Homo sapiens: one gene and its partners. The gene in region 6 interacts genetically with the main gene of each other region. Each region holds a gene or a part of one and is shown on either strand. Other genes may lie near its edges. The genes, in order: MASTL, CCNL1, GPN1, RPP40, TMEM126B, FBXW7 and OR51V1.

Region 1 (3,500 bases), on a different chromosome or scaffold from region 6:
GTGCCATTATCCCTTACAGACATTTAGAAAAATTGCAGGTCTGAGGTTAAGGGACTTCTAAGTCATTTAATAGTAAGTCTTGGGTAGAAAACTCAAGTTTCGAAACATAAATTCAGGGGTTACACATTTTATGTTATGATGTTTTCCCAAAGGAAGAAAAAAAGTAAAACTTTGGGTTGGTAAAGGTTTAGAATATAGAGAGTAAGCTTTGAAATATATATTTTTCGCTGGGCATGGTGGCTCATGCCCGTAATCCCAGCACTTTGGGAGGCCAAGGCAGGCAGATCACAAGGTCAAGAGATCGAGACCATCCTGGCCAACGTGGTGAAACCCCATCTCTACTAAAAATACAAAAATTAGCTGGGCATGGTGGCACATGCCTGTAGTCCTAGCTACTCAGGAGGCTGAAGCAGGAGAATCGCTTGAACCCGGGAGGCGGAGGTTGCAGTGAGCCAAGATCGCGCCACTGCACTCCAGCCTGGTGACAGAGCGAGACTTTGTCTCAAAAAAAAAAAAAAAAAAAAAAGAAACATATTTTTCAACTTTTATTCTCTTAAGAAGAGATCATCTAAATATGTCCTTGGAAGGCAGTAAGGTAGAGCGGACTTAAATTATCTCTGGCCAGGTGAGGTGGCTCACACCTGTAATCCTAGCACTTTGAGAGGCCGAGGTGGGCGGATTGCTTGAGGTCACGAGTTTGAGATCAGCCTGGGCAACATGGTGAAATTCCGACTCTACTAAAAATACAAAAATTAGCCAGGTGTGGTGGTGGGCCCCTTATAATCCCAGCTACTTGGGAGGCTGAGGCAGGAGAATCGCTTGAACCTGGGGGTGAAGTGTGCAATGAGCCAAGATCACACTACTGCACTCCAGCCTGGGCAAAAGAACGAGACTGTCTCAATAATAATAATAATAATAATAATAATAATAATAATAATAATTTTGTAACTCATAGTACTGTGGGGATCAAGTGAAAATTAATTTTGTAACTCATAGTACTGTGGGGATCAAGTGAAAATATGTGATTGTATTTTCTTAGGAAAGTACATAAAACGACACAAATGGAAGGAGGCATTACAGCTAAAAATAATAAACATGATTTCTACCAGCTTTACTTTTCTGGGTGAAAACTTCCAACAGCCCACAGATTCTCAACAAGAAGAACAGAACTATATGATTAATACCGCATAGTCTAGCTTAGAGGCAAATGTCTGTCTTCATAGTTTTTCTAAAATCCAAAAAACAGTATTAGAAAGTTATAAATATACCTGATGTGGCATACAGGATCTTCTTTTTTGAGTAGGGGTTATAGCCATGGGATATGAACCACTGTAGGCACACGAAATATCCATTGCATCTAAAGAAGTCATGTTCATTCTGGATGGTTCTGAGTTATTGGATGCATTAATATGACTGTTAAAACTTCGAAAAGCAACAGCATTTCTTTTAGAGGCTAACGTTTTCAGCACCTCCAAAGGAGGACCTAACATTTTTTGGTTACTCTCTTGTACAGCAGGGTTCTCGACACCTTTTGGTGAGGTCTTTTCTTGGCAATCTGGTGTTACAATAAGTGGATCTTCAATATTTGATTCTTCAAAAGAGGATTCTTTGATGCTTCTATCTGAATCTAAGGGCTGACTTTCTAATGGACTTTCCATTATAGAAATTCCAGGAAAAGATGAATCAGAGTTCATAGAAATATTTTTAGAAGCTCTATCATCATCAGAACATAGAAAACTAGAACTTAAGTAGTCCCTCTTACTATTCTTTTCACAGTCTTCATCGAGTTCACACATAAGGTTTTTTGCTATCATTGGTATAGGTAATTTTTCTGGTGTTTGTTGTTTATCAGTAAAAGAATTGACAATGTTCTCCTTATTAGCACAGTCATTTTGTTGACTTTTGTGCACTGATAGCTTAAGGTCCTGCACTTCAACTGTTAAGCCTGTATTTTGATTTGTATAACAATTTGTCATTTCGTTATGCTTATACTCTACACAAGTTTTTTTATTCTGTATAATTTTTTTACAAGGACTGGAGTCAACCAACTCAAAATTTCTTTTTAAACTTCTTTTCCCAAGGTGCTCTTCAGATATCCCACCAGAATCCACAGCCCACTGATTTGACTGATGGAAACCTAACTGACTTGTGTCAGTGTCCATATTTATATTATTTACATCCAGTTCTACTGCTTCCCAAGAAACTTCCCCAGAGAAGCATTTTTTAGCAAGGTTTACACAAGAGCGTCCAGTGGTGGGAAGGGCACTGCTGTTATGAATGGGAGAAAGAGCTAACTCCAGATCCTTTTTATTGAAACCTTTCGTCTCAATGGCATTTGCAGATTTTGCGCATAACTTTTCAACTGCATTCCAACTCATCATTGTTGGGCCCAATGCTTCATCACTTTCCTAAGAGGGAAAAAAATATTTGTTTTAGTTATATAAAGCTGAGATTCATTGACCTTTTAACTATGGTCCGTTAAGGTAGGATAAATGACCCCATAAACTATTATGCTACCTGTTGCCACTTTCAAATGGAAAAAATAAACAACAGAGAATTAAAAAGCAATGTAAGCAATTATAAGCTTATATACATTATTCTGAATGAAACGGTCTAAACTTTAAATAAATTATTCTATAATACTTATTTTGATTGTATATCACAGGCTACTTAAACAGGACAAATTAACAGGCAACATATTCAGGCACATTTTGGGGTAAGGCTGCATTACGTACATATCTATTTTGCAATAGGTATATGGATGATTCTGTTTTTTTTTTTTTTGAAATGGGGTCTTGCTGTCGTCCAGGCTGAAGTGCAGTGGTGCGATCTCAGCTCACTGCAGCCTCTGCCTCCTGGGTTCAAGCAATTCTCCCACCTCAGCCTCCCAAGTAGCTGGGATTACAGGGGCACACCACCACACCTGGCTAATTTTTGCATAATTTTTTTTAAGTGGAGATGGGGTTTCACTATGTTGGCCAGGCTAGTCTCAAATTCCTGACCTCAGGTGATCCACCTGCCTAGGCCTCCCAAAGTGCTGGGATTACAGGTGTAAGCTACCACACCTGGCCTGGATGATTCTGTTTTGAACTGCAAAATGCACAGGGCTTGAAATTTAGTCAATGAAAAATTATAGACCTAAAATATTGTCAGTGTAAATATATATCACTTCATATAAGTATTAAAAAACCAAGCTGATAAGGATGAAATGACATTAATGGTAATTAATAATTACAAACCCCAAAGAGCAGAAATTAAAGTCCATTGTCAACAAGATGAACTGATAATGCATTAATAATGATTTTTTTTTCTGAATTCCAACTATCTGTGGGTATTTGTGGGTACTCAGCTTTGTATATAATATTGCAAATTGGTGCTTGGTGATCAAGATTTTTACAAGATTAGTCAAGTAGAGTGAGTCTTCAGTAAACTCTAATAGTGCTTATTTTTGATGTGTAAATGAATAGTAAACTTTATTAACTATCATTAACTTAGTAATA
Region 2 (3,095 bases), on a different chromosome or scaffold from region 6:
TAACTTTATTTTTAAAAATATCCTTAGCAGTAATACATCTTCCTCTTTGTGGGTGTATTTTATTTCTTGAAACAGCAACAAATCACTTGGAGCCAAGTCTAGTGGACAATTAAAGTAGGTAAAATAAATGTAATGGAGACCTTAGTGTAATTATAAAGCGATGCAACATTTTGACTCTGTAAACTGATTTCCAAAATGTTGAAAAAAATAGTAAATGTGAGTAACTTGAAAACATTCATCTGGATAGAAATTCCGGCTTTTTCATCAAAACTTCACTTCTTTGTGATCAGCTTGTATTCTATCAACCACTCAAGTTCAGGGGCCTCACATTTTCTCCTAGCCTACGTAAAAATCGTAACATTAAATGCCTAAATTATACAGAACTGTTAAAGCTCAATAGTTACTAAGTTTTGGTTCATTCAATAGGGTACCTCATTTCAGAAATAGTACTTAAATCTGACTCAAAATTACCTTATGACACCATTCAAAAGCAAATCAGGTTTTTTGGTTTAGTGCTAAAATATAACATTTAATGTCACATTGTTGGGCGACTCCCATTTACTTTTTCCATATATACAGTGAAGACTTACAATAGCTCACAATGCAGTTAAGAATTGCATTTTAATAATCTCAAACTACCATCTAATGGAGGAAAGAATAAGTTTGTCAGAAAACCAGTACAGCCATTTTGCTATTAAAATTTTCCTTTTTAATAATTTATTTAAATAAGGTATTTGAAGCAGTTTAGAAAAAACAAGATTTGTATTTTATTTCCTTGTAAAAATCTTTACACATGCAGACAAACCAGTGTTAAGAAAGTATTCACCATCATTTAAACAAATAACCACTTAAATAGAACAGTGTCTGCAATTTTATCTGTATAAAAATAAGATACATTTTTACAGAATTCACGCTCCAGTTCTTATAGCAATAAACAATACACAACTATAATAAAGTACAATTGAACCTGACCATGGTTTTTAATTAGATACTGCTAGGGCATTTTAATGTGCAAAAAAATTAACATAGTTCTTTTCAAAAGAAACTGTCCTCAGTGTTCTAGAGACCTAGAGGGTTTCAAGAAATCAAATCCTAATCAGTTTGCGTTTAATGTTTTTGATTGAGTCCATACATCACACTGTAGATAGGCAAAACCAAGAACTGATGCAGGCTCAAAGGAAGAGAAAGTCAGCGCCTGTGCCTGCCATGTCCTGAGCGACTGCCACCATGGTGCTTGCTTTTATGGGACCTCTCAAAGGAGCGAGATCGTTCACGCCTGTCCCTATGATGTCCCCTTTCATGCCTGTGTTTCTTGGCTGCATCTGAGTGATCCCGAGACTTGCTCTGAGATCGAGAACGAGATTTTTTCCTTTTATGACCATGTCTGTTTGAACTTTTTAAATCATCTCTGGTATGCTTGGCCTTAAGGTGAGGAGAACCATGATTATGATGTCTTCGAGGGCTTTCACTGTGACTGCGGGACCTGCTTCTTGATCTCGAGCTGTATGTTCCAGATCGACTCCGCCTATTATTATAGCTTAGATAATAAAAATTTGAAGTTTAGGTTCAGTTTCTATGGGGAACAGATTATTCCGGTGGTTGCTCATAACAGGTTCAAAACAAAACTACCAGCTACATAAATGACAAACCAGAACTTTTCAAAATCTCCCCACCCCTCACTGCTGTATGCCCAAGCCTATATATAACATATTAAATCTTAAGCAAATGTTCTTATGTCTTTATTCCAAGGGGAGTAATTAGCAATTTTTATAGTGTCCTAGAGCTATGCTTTTTATTAAGTATCTCCCACATGTTCAAAAGACATTGAAGAGCCACGAAGAGCTAACAATCTAATTACAGGCCTAACTAAAGAAGATTCATTGACTGGTTAATTTGATTATTGGTTATTAATAAGGGGTTAATGAAACACATTTTCTAACTGAAATTAAAAAAAAAAAAAGAAGTTTTCACATTATGAACAATACTATGGCCCTCAAGCACTTTGTGGGTAGCTCCTACACTTCTCCAAAAAACATGGGAGAAAATATAACAGAATGCCATTAAGATACTGTATGTCCAGAACATCTCCAAACTCATTTCTCATAATTTGCCTCATACTAAAAGCCTAATTCTAACCTAACTTTGAAAATAATCTATGTTCAATTTTTAAAGAAAAAGCAATAACCTTTAAAAACTCCAAATAAGACTGCTTCCCTAAGAAAACATTTACTTACTGTCTTCTTGGAGTATGTGATCTAGAACGTGATCGTGTTCTTGACCTCGATCGACTTGCACTTCTGCTATTTCTACTTCTCTTGCTGTCTTTTCTTACACTTCAAAAAATCATGACATATTAGTTACAAACTTAGTGTGTTAAAAAGTAAACACATAAAAGATTCCTCAAGCCAGTTTTCCAGCCCAAGTATACTCACCCATTGTAAGGGCTTTTGGAAGCCTGTTGTCTATCCTCAGGTTCTTTTTTGACTGTCTTCACATTAATGGAGATTGGTGATTTCTCTTCAGCTTTTACTTCTCTTGGTGATGCTTTTAAAAGATATAATAACAACATGTTAACTACTGGATTTAACAGAGGGCCAAAAGTTGTTTCTAAATGTAACTCAAAGTACCATGCTTCCGCTTCCATGTTGGTTGACTGCCATGAGAGAACATAGCAGCAGTTTCCTAACATCATTTTTCTCTATGCAACTTTCAAATGTAAAAGCTCTCTAATAAAGACACACTTTCAGTGCCCCCAAGTCATTTTAATTCTAAATACATCTTACATGGCTTGGAGGCTGGAGAAAATCCACCCAGGGTTGAAAGGGCTGGAGTTCCATCCGGATTCAATCCCTTTGCTTTTAATTTGGCTTCTTGTAAGGCTACTTTTCTTTTTTCTACTTCTTTTTCCAGTAATTCATAGTTTGGCTGTTGGAGGAAAAAAAAGTTAGTATTTCTTCCTTAGAGTAGCTTGGACTCTTAGCATGTTGGCACAAACGAGTAAATAGAGAATACCTTTTTTCTGGTATAAAGCCTAAGTGTTTCTATGCAGATTTCCTGGATTTCCTCTTCTGTAGTACCAAAAAGAAGAAACCAAT
Region 3 (3,500 bases), on a different chromosome or scaffold from region 6:
AGTTCCTAACACCAAGAAACCCTCCAATACCTTTGGCAGTCCCTGCATCCAAGGCTACAGAACCCATATCTTTTCGAAGGCGTTCCAGTTGTTCTCTCTGCTGTTGGCTCTCTGCGTTGGCCTGTATATACAGAGAAAAATGTCATCATATTCAAAAAGGAGTCCCAAATTAGATGCCAGACTTCTCAGTGGAGATGAAGAATTATACAAATACTAGAGGCTACATAAAAACTGATGCAGATAAGGGACGTCTGGTATAGGGACAGAAACACTAAGTAGCGTGGGCCTGGGTTACTGCAGAAGTTTAGACTGGAGGGCTCTGCAGACTGATTTAGAGGGTTCAGAAACGGAACACAAAAAGGTTTCAAAAGAACCCTCAATTCTAAAGTGTTGAGTTCAGTCCAGGGTGGATCCCCTGCTCTGTTAATTGAACTGGAACATTTAAACTGGCTAGGCAAAATGCCTACATAGAAAGCATTACTCTTTATTCATCCCCAGCCTACAAAATGAAAAAACAAAAGATACAATAAACTTTATTATATGGGGGAAAAAAAACACAAAAACCTGAAGTAGACATAGCAGGAAGGCTCAGAGACAAAGGATCCAATGAGCCTAAGGAAGCAGGACACTCGATCATTTGGGATAAGAGAAGGCTGGGCATGGTGGCACCTGCCTGTAATCCTAGCACTACAGGAGGCCCAGCAGGGAGGACTGCAGGAGCTCAGGAATTTGAGACCAGCCTGGGCAACACGGTGAGACCTTGTCTATACAAAAAATTTACAAAATAAAATTAGCCAGGCATGTGGTACATACATGTTGTCCTAGCTACTCGGGTGGCTGAGATGGGAGGATCGCTTAAGCCCAAAAGGTCGAGGCTGCAGTGAGCCGCGATCGTGCCACTGCACTCTGGCATGGGTGACAGAGTGAGACCCTTTCTCAACAACAAGAAAAGGAGTTGTGAAGCACCACTACACTCTTATACAAAATTCTACAACTAGCTTTAAATTGACCTCTGAAAGGGAAGAAACATTAAGGAGACTTTCCGCACCCAGACAACATACATACAAATTTACAAATTTAAATTAACAAGTATTTAGAAGATACACTGAAATTTCATTAGCCACTTGTACCTCAATAAAGCTACAAAAAAAACTTTTTTAATTAAATAAAAGATACATTAATAACCAAAACAAAAGCACTTATGTCATCAAGATTGAGCTGGGTTTTTTTAATGGCCCTTTTAAAATATACAAACAGCCTCCCTTCTTACCAGTGATTTTTTCAGACGTTCATATTCAGGACGATACTCCCTGTAAAGAGAAACACTTTCTAAATTCCTTTGCTTAATCCTCTATCCTACTGACTCTCCACATCCCCTTATCTCTATTTTCCTAAGACTGACAATAATAAAACATCTGACTTCATTCAACATCAGATGTAACAAATCTTAGTCACTGACAGAGTCTACCCAATGGAATTAAAAGCCAAGGTGCCCGCTCCCACCTTGGAACCAGGAGACACAATCCTGACTGCTGGGCTGGAAAGATTAATATTGGTGAGAACATGACTGATGAACTCACCATTCATTTGAGATAAAAGGGTGAGATAAGTAAAAGATAAGCCTGTTGAGCTCAGGACGTGCAACATACAATTATGTGCTTTACTTGAACAACAACAGTGAAAGGATACAGAAAAGAGTCTATCCTAAGGTTTTGATAACACCCTTGTGTCTAATGAATCAAAATCAAAATAACATGTCTGAAAACCAAAATATGGTTGTTAGGATCTTGCAAAATATGAAGCCAAAGACACATGACACTAATAAGCCGGCTATCATGCCACAGGCCTAAGGAAAGTGCACAGGGCTCTGACTCCACTTTTCTTTACTTGAATTCCAGTATTAACAATGACAATAGTTATAACATTTATTATAAAATGTGCTTACTATATGTCAGCAATTGTGATAAGTGCTGTATACGTTTTCTCAATCTTCACAACAACCTTAGTGCCAAATCCAGCCCACTGCCTGTTTTCATAAATGTTTTTCTGTAACACTAGCCACGCCCATTAATTTACAAATTGTCTGAGGACGCTTTTGTCCTACAATGGCAGACGTGAGCAGTTGCAACAGAGACTATATGACCCACAAAGCCTGAGCTACCTACTGTTTAGCTCTTTACAGAAAAGTCTGATGATCCCTGCTCTTAATCACTCAATACAATGAAGATTTATACTTCTATTTAAAAAAAACAAAATTTAAAGGGAACTTGTCACCCCTAAGTGTGGTCTGATTCAATACACATATGCAAACCAAATATAATACATCCATCATGAAAATGTAATGCTTTTCCTGGAAAAACTGCTTTCATATCAGAATTGTAGGTTATTAAGAATGTCATCAATAGAATTTTCCTTTATCCTCACCTTTCATATTCTTCGGCAGCACTGGTAACTTGCACAAAGAGTTCATCTAATCCAGTACCCAGAACAGCAGAGACACCCACCACCTGCCAAAAAGCATCATAAATGCCACTAAAGAAACCATTGTATATTTTTTAATGAAGTACATTAACTTGTTTAAATGTCATAAAATCTTAGTAAGAGTGGTTTATATTTTGAGAAGTCTTTGGCAAAAAGCCAGGCTAAAAAAGAACAAAACAGCACACCCAGTCAAAAGTCACAGAAATAAGTCCATGGAAAATAAAAAATTGAAAAAGAAAGATATGGCCTGAGTGCAGTGGCACATGCCTATACTACCAGTACTTTGGGAGGCTGAGGCAGGAGGTGCACTTGAGGCCAAGCATTCAAGACTGGCCTGGGGAACATAGCGAGACCCCAGTCTCTACAAAATATAAAAAATTAGCTGGGTATGGTATACCGCACACGCCTATAGTCTTAGCTGCTTGGTAAGCTGAGGCAGGAGGATCCCTTGAGACCACGAGGTCAAGGCTGCAGTGAGCTGTGATCCTGTCACTACACTCTGGCCTGGGTAAAACAAAGCAAGATCCTCTCTCCAAAGGGAAAAAAGAAAAAAAAAAGATAATTAGGACTGAACAATTAACAGGACTTATTATCTATTCCCTAACAAACCAAACCAAATCACTTTCTGCTTTGTCTATGTCTTTCCTTGGGCAATTAACCCATTCTGCCTTTGCTTACATAAATCTTACCCTTCTTCAAAGCATACCTCTAATGCTACATCCTCCAAAATCTGTCATTTTGATCTGCCGCCTCACAATCATCAGGCCCAACTTCCAATCTTTCTTAAGGTACTTACTACAATATATCATATGTTTTAATTCTGTGTGTAGCCTTCTCTCCCAAATAGACTATAAACTCTGAAGCTGGGGTCCCTATCTTATTCTTCTTGTACACTCCACAATTTTTAATAAGCAATGCTTTAAAAGTTACTTTTCAGTAGGTAATAAGCTTCCTTTCTCAGCCAGGTTCAAAGCCAATCCTATGGGTTAACAGATTATCTGGAGAGGCTGTCAGTGTGA
Region 4 (3,410 bases), on a different chromosome or scaffold from region 6:
CCCTAATAAATCTCCTCTCATCCATCCATCCATCCATCCATCCATCCTATTGGTCCTTTCTCTCTGGAGAACCCTGACTAATACATTTTGGCTACTACCATTCCTCTGAGGAATTAAGTCCTGTGTCTCTGACCCAGGGCTTATGTGTCTTCTGCCAGCATCCCTGAGACTGTAGCAGGCTACCTAGTTAGCCTGCAAGTATGAGGAAATCTCAGAACTTTCACAGTCCTGACAAATCCTTAAAATAGTTAGGAGCTTTAGGAATAGGGAGCTATCCAGAATCCAACGTCTGGATGATCTGCATAGAAGACTTCACGCAACTGAAACTTCAATAAGCCTTTCTGCCCTCTTTTCTATCTACCATATATGGAAGGAGAGGCACCGAAGGCCAGACCTAGGACTCATGGGAGCAACTTGGAGCACCCAGTGACGAGACACTTCCCATGAGGAGCAGACAGATGGGGCTATTTCTAAAACAGACCACCATGCTTCCTATCCTCCAAAAGAGAGTACTACACCATAATTCCTGATGACTTGATCCATTATTATCTGGGTCAAAGATACACTTCTAAAAGGAGCAACATACATGGCCGTTTTAGGCAGATTACGCTGTGTGGTGAATAGCAAACTTTGAACTAAATTTAGTGTCCTAATCAATTAAAAGTTAGAATAAATTCATCTGACATTTAATGGTAGGCCTGAGTCAGTACCCTGTGATAATAAATAAGCAGATTGTGTATATAATTGGTGCTACTTAAAAATATTATAGTCAAGGCTGTTCAAGGTAAGCTGGAGAGAGGAAAGGGGAGAAATAGATAAAATTTAGCTGCTCTGAAGCCACTCTCAAGATCTCTGGATCTACATATAACCCAAAGAGACGCAGGCAGAAAGGCCTGCGTGCCTACATGATCCTGAACTATGGTTTTCAGAGATGTCAGAAGGGCTAGTTTCCTTAATAATATTTTTATATATACGTATAGAATATTCCTTGACTAAAGAGTGAATCACCATTCAATCCTCCATTACTCCTCTTTAATTAACAATTACTTTCAAAATCACTGTATCATTACATAATTTATTCCTCATACCTGTTTTATGCCAAGCCAAAAGAAAATCAAATTTCAATGGCTTCTTTTCTTTGAAAGACCAAGATATTCTTTCATACTTCTTAGAATCCAAGTTTAAGGATAATTCCATCAAATCAATGGAAACAACTTTAAAAATGAAAAAAAGAACATATATTTCATTCATATACGTACAGCTTCTACCATGGAAAAAGTGTTACATTTTTAAAAACTAGAATTTTGGGAAATTTTATGGATAGTAAAATTATTTTATTCTTCTTCCACTCCCTTTGGTTTGCCAAATAAATAAGATCCCTTTGGTGGGCACTTCTAACCTTGAGAGCTAATAAAAACAGACATTTTCAATTTATATGTTTCCTAGGTCAAAGACCAAGGGCAGAGGACCTTGAGAGGTCAGGTTTAATCTACTTATGGATGTGGCGGCCTTAGCTATTGATGTTCGAGCCAGACGCTGTCAGCAAAACATCTCTTCACTCATGGGTGAATTTCTACTAGTAATCATAAAGACTTGGGGAAACCAAAGGAAATTCTTTATTAAGAATAAGTTGTAGACTCCTATCTTGGGTTCAGTACTTGGAATTTTTTTTTTTTTTTTTTTTTTTTTTGAGATGGACTCTCACTCTGTCGCCAGGCTGAAGTGCAGTGGTGCGATCTTGGCTCACTGCAAACTCCCCCTCCCGGGTTCAAGCAATTCTCCTGCCTCAGCCTCCTGAGTAGCTGGGACTACAGGCATGCGCCACCACGCCCAGCTAATTTTTGCATTTTTAGCAGAGATGGGGTTTCGCCATGTTGGTCACAATGGTCTCAATCTCTTGACCTCATGATCCGCCCGCCTTGGCCTGCCAAGGTTTAACCCGAAACATATATATTTAATTGACCAGTCCAAGTCTACAATCTTTATTAAATGCATCTACAGCTGAAAAGAAATGAACTTAAAAGCATCATCCTATCCTCTGTGAAGCTCGAGTCAGAAGTTTGACAGATTTTTTTTAAAAGGCCACATTTTTTTGAACAAAGAGATTAGAGGCAATTCAAACATTTAAATTTAAATTGCCACAAGAAGATTAGAAACAGATGGAACACACATGATACTTACTAAATTTCATAATTTTTCTGCCAGAAAACTGAGATGGATGACCCTGAAGTCCAGTTTCTTCATAAGTGTCTTTATCCAGTGACAAAATTAATTTCCCTATAAATCAAATAATAACTCCCATAAGATACCAAAACTAGAACTTACGTTGTCTGACTAAAAGAAAGCAAGGCAAATTGAGCAGTTAGATATCAATGTAACAAACTGCATACAAGGATCTTATTTATATCACAAGAATATTATTTATGTGTATACATGTCTTGTAACAGATATTATTTATACATTATACATCCAAGGATATTATTTATAATAGTGAAATTTAAAATAATCTGAATTTCTACTAAAGATGAAATAAATAAGTCATGGTATACTCATTCTTTTGAATATCTTCTTTTTTTTTTTCAGACAATCTCATTCTGTCTCCCAGGCTGGAGCGCAGTGGCGCAATCTTGGCTCACTGCAACCTCCGCCTCCCAGGTTCAAAGCGATTCTCCTGCCTCAGCCTCCCAAGGAGCTGGGACTACAGGCATGAGCCACCACGCCGGCTAATTTTTGTATTTTTAGTAGAGGCAGGGTTTCACCATGTTGGCCAGGCTGGTCTCGAACTCCTGACCTCAGGTGATACACCTGCTTTGGCCTCCCAAAGTGCAGGGATTACAGGCGTGAGCCACCGTGCCCAGCTGACTTTTTTTTTTTTTTTTTTACAGTATGCATTTTTTTTTAACAATTAAAGAAAGATGAAAAAATAAAGTGTTACCATTTGGTAGCAGGGCAACAGTATTATCTTCATCAATATGTGTATTGTATGTTAGTGCATAGCAAGAACCTGGAAGAGAAAGTACAGAGGAAAAATTTAAAACAAGAAATTACACCTGCAAGATGTTAGTGGATTATTTTTACAAGATAACCAGTCTTCCGGGTCATTAAAGGTCAGTTTCTACCCCTGCTCCAGCTCACTCAATAAACCAAACATCTGCTAAGGGTAAGCTGCAGCATGCAGAAGACCAAGCATGCAGAAGACCAAGCATGCAGAAGACCAAGCATGCAGAAGACCAAGCATGCAGAAGACAAAGCTTGCAGAAGACCAAGCATGCAGAAGACCAAGCATGCAGAAGACCAAGCATGCAGAAGAACAAGCATGCAGAAGACCAAGCATGCAGAAGACCAAGCATGCAGAAGACCAAGCTTGCAGAAGACCAAGCTCCAGCTAGTTCACTCCCTGACCAACAGCC
Region 5 (2,722 bases), on a different chromosome or scaffold from region 6:
GTCTAAGTAAAGTTACTTATTAACATATACTGTTGCTACTGCTAATAATAATTCTTTACATTTATATATTGCTATACAGTTTACAAAGTCCATATACCTTGTCATATTTAATCCCTGCAACAATCCTCCTAATCAGGTAAACTGTATTTTTTTATTTCTGTAGATAAGCAACCCAAACTGAGGCATGTTCAAGTACGCTAATAAGCAACATACTGGGAAAAGAATTGGCTGTGGCATACAACGCACATCATTTCAGTATGCTACCTCCTGCCACTTAAGTTTTGTGACATTCAGTAAGGCATTTCATCTCTGAGCCTCCGTTGTCTTATCTATAAGTTAGGACTAATAGTACTTACCTCACAGGATTGTTGTGAGAATTAAAAGATACTGTAGGTTAAATGACTACCACAATATCTGTCATATTATGGGCTTTTAATGTTATTTCCTGCCCCTCACCTTACCTTGAGTTTCACAACTAGTAATTGATAGAGCATCTATCCCTTGTTCATTCTTCAGGTTCCTGCTTAAGTATCTTTTCCCCAGGGAGACCTCTGATTGCCTCATTGTACACTAGGTGTCTGGATACATTCTCTATATAGTTTATCTTCAAAGTATTGTGTACACTGATAATTATCTATTTAAATATTTATCTCGTGTCTTTCATCTCTGTAAACTGGCCAGAAGGTCAGAGATCAGGTCTCTTTTATGTACCACCGTATTCCTAGCTCCTAGCACGTTCCTGATATATAGTAGATAATAAAAATGTATTAACCTAGAATCCAGGTCTGGTTTGCTAGTTTAGTATTGTCATTATAAAATTGTTTCTGGCTGGGCACGGTGGCTCATGCCTATAATCCCAACACTTTGGGAGGCCAAGACAGGCAGATCACTTGAGGTCAGGAGTTCGAGACCAGCCTGGCCAACACAGTCTCTACTAAAAATAGAAAAACAGTTGAGCATGGTGGTGCAAGCTTATAATCCCAGCTACTTGGGAGGCTGAGGCATGAGAATTGCTTGAACCCTGGAGGCAGAGGTTGCAGTGAGCCGAGATCGTGCCACTGTACTCTAGCCTGGGCAACAGAGTGAGACTCCGTCTCCAAAAAATAAAATAAAATTGCTTCTACAACAACCACATACGTTAGAGGTAATTCTCTATGTGATAAAGTATAATAAAAACTTTTTAAAATGTGCTGCATTTGGCCTGTTATATGCCACAGAGTTTGAATTTCTAATATTCTTTCTATGGTTTAGTTGTGGTTGAGGATAGTGCAGATAACTACTCTGTGAGGTACAACACTGTCTTAATAGCTCTTGAGTTTTAAAGGAAAACCAAATTTACTTTTGTTTTCCAGATAATATAAGCAAGGAAAACTGTGTTTTCAGAAGCTCACTGATTGGCATAGTTTGTGGTGTTTTCTATCCCAGTTCTTTGGCTTTTACTAAAAATGGACGCCTGGCAACCAAGTAAGTTCTTCCTTTTCCTTCTTTTTTCTTTTCTTTTCTTTTCTTTTTTTTTTTTTTTTTTAGGTTAATAAACTCTCTTTCTTCTTTAGCTGTCTATGATATATTTGAATCAAAATGTGGTAGTTTGGTATTTCAGATAGCTAACTTTTAACTTTTTTGCTCTCTACATTATAGATCTAGAAAGGCAATTATCAATTTAGGAGAAGTCAACAAACTTCTAATAGCATTCATATCCAGGAGAGGTGATTAACTCTTTTTTCTTTTTAGGTATCATACCGTTCCACTGCCACCAAAAGGAAGGGTTTTAATCCATTGGATGACGCTTTGTCAAACACAAATGAAATTAATGGCGATTCCTCTAGTCTTTCAGATTATGTTTGGAATATTAAATGGTCTATACCATTATGCAGTATTTGAAGAGACACTTGAGAAAACTATACATGAAGAGTAACCAAAAAAATGAATGGTTGCTAACTTAGCAAAATGAAGTTTCTATAAAGAGGACTCAGGCATTGCTGAAAGAGTTAAAAGTAACTGTGAACAAATAATTTGTTCTGTGCCTTTTGCCTGGTATATAGCAAATACTCAAAAAGTATTCAATAATTCAATCAATAAATATAAGTTTCATCTTACACGTAAGATACAGGTCTTATCTCCTGATGGTGTGTCCATTTTGCCTGGTATATAACAGATAATAAATATCCAGTGTCAATAAATGTAACAATAAAAGTTTCATCTTTCCTCTTTGTATGTGGAAATGGGTTTGGGCTTTAAGGTCTCATCTGTGCAGTTATATATTCATTCATTCATCAAACATTTATTGAGCTATTTCTCAGGCACTGTGTTAAATATAATAAGAAACATTCTGGCTGGGCATGGTGGCTCTCGCCTGTAATCCCAGCACTTTGGGAGGCCAGGGAAGGCGGATCACCTGAGGTTAGGAGTTTGAGACCAGCCTGGCCAACATGGCAAAACCTCGTCTCTACTAAAAGTACAAAAGAATTGGCTGGGCATGATGGTGTATGCCTGTAATCCCAGTTACTTGGGAGGCTGAGGCAGGAGAATCGCTTGAACCCAGGAGGCGGAGGTTGCAGTAAGCTGAGATCTCACCACTGTGCTCCAGCCTGGGCAACAGAGCAGAACTCCATATCAAAAAAAAAAAAAAGAAAGAAAACAAACATTCCTTACCTAGAAGGAACTCAATTGAGGAGGAGTAAGTGTGAACACATACTATGAGAGGATTTGAGAGGTATACACA
Region 6 (3,500 bases):
AGTAATAGGTTCACTGAGATTATATACTCATGGTTATACAGTAAGTGGTATAATCAGAATTCAAACTCAGATGTGAAAAGTTCTTATCACTCTAATATGTTAGGGGAAAACCCATCTCACCCATTGTCCCCATTTCTCCCATTTCCATTATCCTCCCCACATGTTTAAAATTGGGCTAAATTAGGCTGAGTCAATGTTTCATTTTTCCTCCTTCACAAAGGTAGGGGACATGGCTATTCATTGGGCCATGTTTACTAGTGGATGTTATTCAAGATGACTGCCTTAAATAGCATTTTTTGCTCTCTGGACATGTATATACCAAACAGACTTTGAACTTAAGTTGCTTGTCTTGCAGGTAGACTAGGCCAGGGACTTTCTGAAGAAGCTATCATTCTCTAGAACTCTACAACAGAGTGTAACTTAGAGCCCTGTTATATTTCCAATGTTAGCCACATTATCCTACAAAGCTGCTCAGCAGCTCTGGTCCTAGGAGGTGGTTGGAGAATGGCGGACCAGATACCCTGATTGGTTAATGATCCTATTACCTGATTCCTCTATTGTTCAGAATTTATAGACAAGAAAGGGTCTTACGCCTCTAAACTCCAATACACTAGATGCTTCTCCACACCTCCCCCCACCCTCTATTTATTTATTCTGAAACAGGGTCTTGCTCTGTGGCCCAGATCACTGCAGCCTCAACCTCCTGGGCCCAAATGATCCTCCAACCTCAGCCCCCAAAGTAGCTGGAACCACAGGCGCATGCCATCACACTCAGCTAATTTTTGTATTTTTTGTAGAGACAGGGTTTTGCCATGTTGCCCAGGCTGGTCTCAAGCAATCTGCCCACCTCAGCCTCTCAAAGTGCTGGGATCACAGGTGTGAGCCACCACACCTGGCTATCTTTTATATATATTTATTTTTTGATAAACATTTATTTCTTATTTGAGGCAAATGGATAAAAACGATTTAATTACTAGGAAGAATCTAACAATCAAGATGGGAAAAAAATAGACTAATTTGAGGTAAGGAAGTTATGTGAGAAGAGAACAGGTGGAAGCCACTAAGATAGATATGGAAGCATCAGAAATTAATGCTCAAACACACTTCTCTTCATCAAAAGATCAGGATACCAGATCTGGCCTAATAATCATCTCATTTGTTTTTCATGTTAGTAGAAAATTAGTTGATATTCTGCATAAAATATGTCAAAGATTCTTCAATATGAGCTGGGCATATCTTCAGAAAACAACTTTTTTTAAAAAAATATGATAAGGATGTTGAGAATGAGAGTTAAAACTGAAGAGACAGACATTTGTATCTGGAGAAGCAAGATTTAGAGGAATAGCCAGCACACAACCTCTGCTTTAAAAGCATGTTTTATGGATTCAAGAGAGTATGACCTCTATAAAATTTTTTAACAGCGTCATTTGTTCCTGATTACTTTAGCCTTGAGCTGTAAAATCTTCAATAATGTTTTGTTAAGTGCCACAAAGAAAAGTAGTTAACTGAGCCCTCTGTCCTTTCTATAGGGTAGCTCTTATCACTTCAAATGGGACATAGTATCAGAAAATCATCACATGGCAGAGTCTCTGACTATGTTGGAAATCTTGTTCAGTGATGTTTGTCAAATTCAACCATAGGGGGCAGCATAGCATGTGGAAAGAGAAAGGGGTTTTTTGCTATTAGGCAAATCAGGATTAAAATCTCTCATCACGTAGTGTAATCTGGGGTGGATCATTCGGCCTCTCTGTAACTTTTGTTTATGTATCTGTAGTAGGATCTTTCAAACAGTGTGAGCTTAATAAATAGCAATTCTTGACTACCACTTCCCTTGACTTTTAACATTAAGACAACATGGAATTTTTAACATATATTGCTTGCCATAAGGCTCCCAAAAGAACAAACCTTTAGTGACAAGGGGGGAAAAACTGTCCTCAGAGTGTTGACAGTTTTCAGAATGCTTTCAAAGAATAAAGCAATGCAAGGAAGAATTAAAAATCTTTTTTTCTCATTAATATATTTGCTTATGCAGCATATTTAGGGATGATGGGTAAAATTCAGTCTAGCTGTCCACAGGGTTTGTTTATGAGAATGCCAAAAAATAAAACTTGAAAGGTATCCTGAGTAAAATTTGTAGAAAGCTAATCCTATGTTAACATTTAAAATGGGATTTCATTTCTTATGCCTCTACTCTCAAAAGTCAAAGAAGACTTGAATGAAACTATGGTCTAGGGTAACATCTGTAGAAGTGTCTTAACTTTATAATGATCAAGAATTTAAAGCTCTTCCAAAATAAAGTACTTCAACTAGTGAGAGCTTCTATTTATTGTATTAAAACATGTATACACGGAGAATACTGACATTTTCTTTTTAGGTGAAGCAGTACTCAGTGACTTTTTTTAATGCTGTTGAAAGTGCTCTGGGAATACTCTGGCAGAAGGGTTTCAGGAATGGACAAAAAGGAAAACATTTAGAAAAATTTCAGACTGAAATCTTACTTGTAGAAGGGTATCACTGTCCTGGCAATCAAATAGCTTTGTATTCTTCATGCCATACTTACGAAGGCAGATCATCTCATGATCAACAATATATCAAAAACTATACATACACACTTATATAATAAATGCATACACACATCTATACTGTACATGTGTATATACATAAATGCATACACACATCTATACTGTACATGTGTATATACATAAATGCATACACACATGTATTCCTTCTATGGTTAGAGCCCAGTCCATTCTTGTTATATGTACAGGACAATAATTGTTATTCATGATTCAGAATCACTAGAAAAAAACTAACAAATTCAGTATACTTCGTTTTTAAAAAGGTAATCATCATACACAAAATTTTACATCTTGAAGGTAAAGAAAAGATAAAGCACCTGTCAAACTTGTGAACTGGAAGGTTTCCTACAGAATATAAGGATGACTTTTCCTTTTGGAAAAAGATAATGTTTTGTCTAACTAGCTTTTTTTGCTTTTAATTTAAAGTGTAGCAGAAATCAGCAATAACTCTGCATTGTTCCGCAAGGCTTAGTTTTGATTGAACCTCTTTCTGAAATAAGTTAGTGCAATTGGACCTTAAGTATTAAACCCCTATTCCTCTAACTGAACCCTCAGGAAAAAAAGAGATGTTAAAACTCCCTTTTGATATAGCAACCTTGAAGAAGATGATCAAGACTAGGGGGGCAAAAGGGAGGAATGACACTATAAAAGGTCTGAGCCTTAACAAAGTGGTGCTATAGTTGTTAGTGGTAGAGCCATCTGGCTGAGATCCAAAGCTACTGCTTCAACATCTTGAGACAGGGATGGTACAATGGATGAAAAATCACTACTTGATGTCACGTCCTTCTTAGATCATGCCAGCTAAATAAAATCTGACTTGCAGATAGGCTAGGTAAATTAGGGCCAAACACATTTTAGAAAGTAAGGTTTTACAAGCAGATGTAAAACATGATTTAGCATTTCAATTATTATTAATCCAAG
Region 7 (2,693 bases), on a different chromosome or scaffold from region 6:
TAAAAATAGTGAGCTAAGTTATTCAATGCTGAGAAGGAGTCAGGGCAAGAAAAACAATGGTTAGACTGCTAGAAGACGTCAGTGTAGTATAGAGAGTACATTGAGAAGAAAGTCTGTGGAACTGTGTTGTGAGGCTAATAAGACAAAGCTGAAAAGTAGGACATAAAGGGCAGCCCAAATCTGAAGTTACTTTAACATCTCGAAGTTACTCAATCAAACATGAAAGTATGGACTTTTGAACATCTGTTTACATTATTAGAGCTTTAAAAAAACTTATGATGATTCTCAGGTCTGGAACTTAAAGCAGGCAAACAATGTAAAGAAGAAGCCAATTGATTCTGCTACCATGAGGCTTTTGAAATTATAAGCTTGCTTGTTTGAGCCTGGCTTTGTGATCTGTAGAACTGCAGGTTCTAAGAAAGAAAACACAATTGGCCAATACATTGAATAAATGTATATTGAATAAATAGTTAATCAGCTCATTAACTGAATAAATAAAGGAATGGGAAGCACTGAGCTGCTATCAAAGGCTCAGTGTCTTCAATCTAATTCTCTACATCACAAAGGCACAAATGAGTTGAACATCTCAAGAGGCCAGAGCTCCAGTGAGAAATCATTTACCCAAGGTCTCATGCATAAATATTCCTGTCTGCTTATCACCAATGAAGAAAAAGTAATTGCTGGCTACGTCATCTGGAGGGGGAGAAAACAGGAGTATCTTCATTAAATAGTATTTGGAGAAAAAATATACTTGGAGACGGCACAAAATGGAAAATGACGGAAAAGTGACTATTTAATAGACTTATGATATTTAAAGCCCAAAGATTACTCTTCACTTCGAATGTTTAATGAATTGGAGAGAAGAAAATAATTTTTCAAGAACCTCGGCTCTTTACTGGTATAAAATTTTTACCACTATCCTTGGGAAAATGTCTAAGCAACGTATTTTTTTAAAACTAGCCTTCTCCTTTTACTAATCTCTTCCTTATTTGTTTTTGCTTATGGCTTCTAAGGATATGTTCACATCCAGACAGTGAAAAAATAATGACTTTTAAATGACATCAAAAGAAGACCATTTTCTCAAAGGCAATGGATACTATGTCTCAAAGAAACAGAATTTCTCAGCTGTTTTTTTTAAGTCAGTAAGTTTTAGGGTATTTCATTTACTTAGAAATTTCATTGTATTCAGGTGAAATTGAAACATTTCCTTTGAAAAAATACTCTCACATGTTTCTCAGTTCCAGAATGATTACTTCAGTAAGCCCTAGCACCAGCACGAATTCTTCCTTTCTTCTCACTGGATTTTCTGGCATGGAGCAGCAATACCCCTGGCTTTCCATCCCCTTCTCCTCAATCTATGCCATGGTGCTTTTGGGCAATTGCATGGTTCTCCATGTGATATGGACTGAGCCAAGCCTGCACCAGCCTATGTTTTACTTCCTGTCCATGCTGGCCCTCACTGACCTGTGCATGGGGCTGTCCACTGTGTACACAGTGCTGGGGATCCTGTGGGGGATCATTCGAGAGATCAGCTTGGATTCCTGCATTGCCCAGTCCTATTTCATCCATGGTCTGTCCTTCATGGAGTCCTCTGTCCTCCTCACTATGGCCTTTGACCGGTACATTGCAATTTGCAATCCACTACGTTATTCCTCCATCCTGACTAATTCCAGAATTATCAAAATTGGGCTCACTATAATAGGTAGGAGTTTTTTCTTTATTACACCCCCCATCATCTGTCTGAAATTTTTTAATTACTGTCATTTCCACATCCTTTCTCACTCTTTCTGCCTGCACCAGGATCTTCTCCGCTTAGCCTGTTCAGACATCCGATTCAATAGTTACTATGCCCTGATGCTGGTTATTTGCATACTGTTGTTGGATGCTATACTCATCCTTTTCTCCTACATCCTGATTCTTAAGTCAGTCCTGGCAGTTGCCTCTCAGGAAGAGAGGCATAAATTATTTCAGACCTGCATCTCCCACATCTGTGCTGTCCTTGTGTTCTACATCCCTATCATTAGCCTCACAATGGTGCACCGTTTTGGCAAGCACCTTTCCCCCGTGGCCCACGTTCTCATTGGCAACATCTACATCCTTTTCCCACCTTTAATGAATCCCATCATCTACAGTGTCAAGACCCAACAGATTCATACCAGAATGCTTAGACTCTTTTCTCTGAAAAGATATTGAGAGATATTGAGATGTATTGCCTAAAAAAAAGAAAGAAAAGCAGCAACAATAATAAACAAAAATCAGTGCCATAAAAAAGAAAAAATTATTAAAATTGTAGATTTACTCTGAGTCCATGACAAATGACCTTAAAAAATATTTAAATATAGTCAGAGAATCAACAAACAAGTTCCATTGTGTCAGCCTGGACACATGTAGGTCACTCTATCAGTCTGACCATATTTAAGAAAGAGGAAAAAATTGTTTATTTGCCTGAAATGTACTTTTGAGCATTTCCTTTGCTGTAAAACAAAGCTGGATTAAAAACCTAGGTTTTCAAGTTTCAAAGTAGAAAACTTGAAGTTTCTTTCATTCTCTGAGGTTTACTTAATTAACCTTCAAAATGGAGACTATAGCCAACTCACAGGAATGTTGTGATATCTGTATGGACCAGAATTGTCCAAGGGAACTTTTCTAAACTGATGGCGATGTTCTATAAAATACCATAAAATGGCTAAAGT

What was found.
Region 1: changes in FBXW7 (region 6) and MASTL are lethal when combined (synthetic lethality), as found in Homo sapiens cells (one study listed by BioGRID).
Region 2: changes in FBXW7 (region 6) and CCNL1 are lethal when combined (synthetic lethality), as found in Homo sapiens cells (one study listed by BioGRID).
Region 3: changes in FBXW7 (region 6) and GPN1 together harm fitness more than expected from each alone (negative genetic interaction), as found in Homo sapiens cells (one large-scale study listed by BioGRID).
Region 4: changes in FBXW7 (region 6) and RPP40 together harm fitness more than expected from each alone (negative genetic interaction), as found in Homo sapiens cells (one large-scale study listed by BioGRID).
Region 5: changes in FBXW7 (region 6) and TMEM126B are lethal when combined (synthetic lethality), as found in Homo sapiens cells (one study listed by BioGRID).
Region 7: changes in FBXW7 (region 6) and OR51V1 are lethal when combined (synthetic lethality), as found in Homo sapiens cells (one study listed by BioGRID).

What each region holds. Positions count from the first base shown.
Region 1 is NC_000010.11:27,168,852-27,172,351, reverse strand, and holds part of MASTL (serine/threonine-protein kinase greatwall), read right to left. Parts: intron 2,409-3,500; coding exon 1,269-2,408; intron 1-1,268. UniProt on the Homo sapiens protein: Serine/threonine kinase that plays a key role in M phase by acting as a regulator of mitosis entry and maintenance.
Region 2 is NC_000003.12:157,147,053-157,150,147, forward strand, and holds the end of CCNL1 (cyclin-L1), read right to left. Parts: coding exon 3,013-3,095; intron 2,926-3,012; coding exon 2,784-2,925; intron 2,545-2,783; coding exon 2,433-2,544; intron 2,334-2,432; coding exon 2,235-2,333; intron 1,538-2,234; coding exon 1,189-1,537; 3' UTR 501-1,188; downstream 1-500. UniProt on the Homo sapiens protein: Involved in pre-mRNA splicing. Functions in association with cyclin-dependent kinases (CDKs). Inhibited by the CDK-specific inhibitor CDKN1A/p21. May play a role in the regulation of RNA polymerase II (pol II).
Region 3 is NC_000002.12:27,639,050-27,642,549, reverse strand, and holds part of GPN1 (GPN-loop GTPase 1), read right to left. Parts: intron 2,508-3,500; coding exon 2,425-2,507; intron 1,311-2,424; coding exon 1,271-1,310; intron 508-1,270; exon of another isoform or gene 381-507; intron 122-380; coding exon 31-121; intron 1-30. UniProt on the Homo sapiens protein: Small GTPase required for proper nuclear import of RNA polymerase II (RNAPII). May act at an RNAP assembly step prior to nuclear import.
Region 4 is NC_000006.12:4,997,628-5,001,037, forward strand, and holds part of RPP40 (ribonuclease P protein subunit p40), read right to left. Parts: intron 3,005-3,410; coding exon 2,936-3,004; intron 2,278-2,935; coding exon 2,182-2,277; intron 1,215-2,181; coding exon 1,089-1,214; intron 1-1,088. UniProt on the Homo sapiens protein: Component of ribonuclease P, a ribonucleoprotein complex that generates mature tRNA molecules by cleaving their 5'-ends. Also a component of the MRP ribonuclease complex, which cleaves pre-rRNA sequences.
Region 5 is NC_000011.10:85,634,315-85,637,036, forward strand, and holds the end of TMEM126B (complex I assembly factor TMEM126B, mitochondrial), read left to right. Parts: exon of another isoform or gene 1-1,191; intron 1,192-1,352; coding exon 1,353-1,464; intron 1,465-1,731; coding exon 1,732-1,915; 3' UTR 1,916-2,222; downstream 2,223-2,722. UniProt on the Homo sapiens protein: As part of the MCIA complex, involved in the assembly of the mitochondrial complex I. Participates in constructing the membrane arm of complex I.
Region 6 is NC_000004.12:152,407,093-152,410,592, forward strand, and holds part of FBXW7 (F-box/WD repeat-containing protein 7), read right to left. Parts: intron 1-3,500. UniProt on the Homo sapiens protein: Substrate recognition component of a SCF (SKP1-CUL1-F-box protein) E3 ubiquitin-protein ligase complex which mediates the ubiquitination and subsequent proteasomal degradation of target proteins.
Region 7 is NC_000011.10:5,199,235-5,201,927, reverse strand, and holds OR51V1 (olfactory receptor 51V1), read left to right. Parts: upstream 1-1,245; coding exon 1,246-2,193; downstream 2,194-2,693. UniProt on the Homo sapiens protein: Odorant receptor.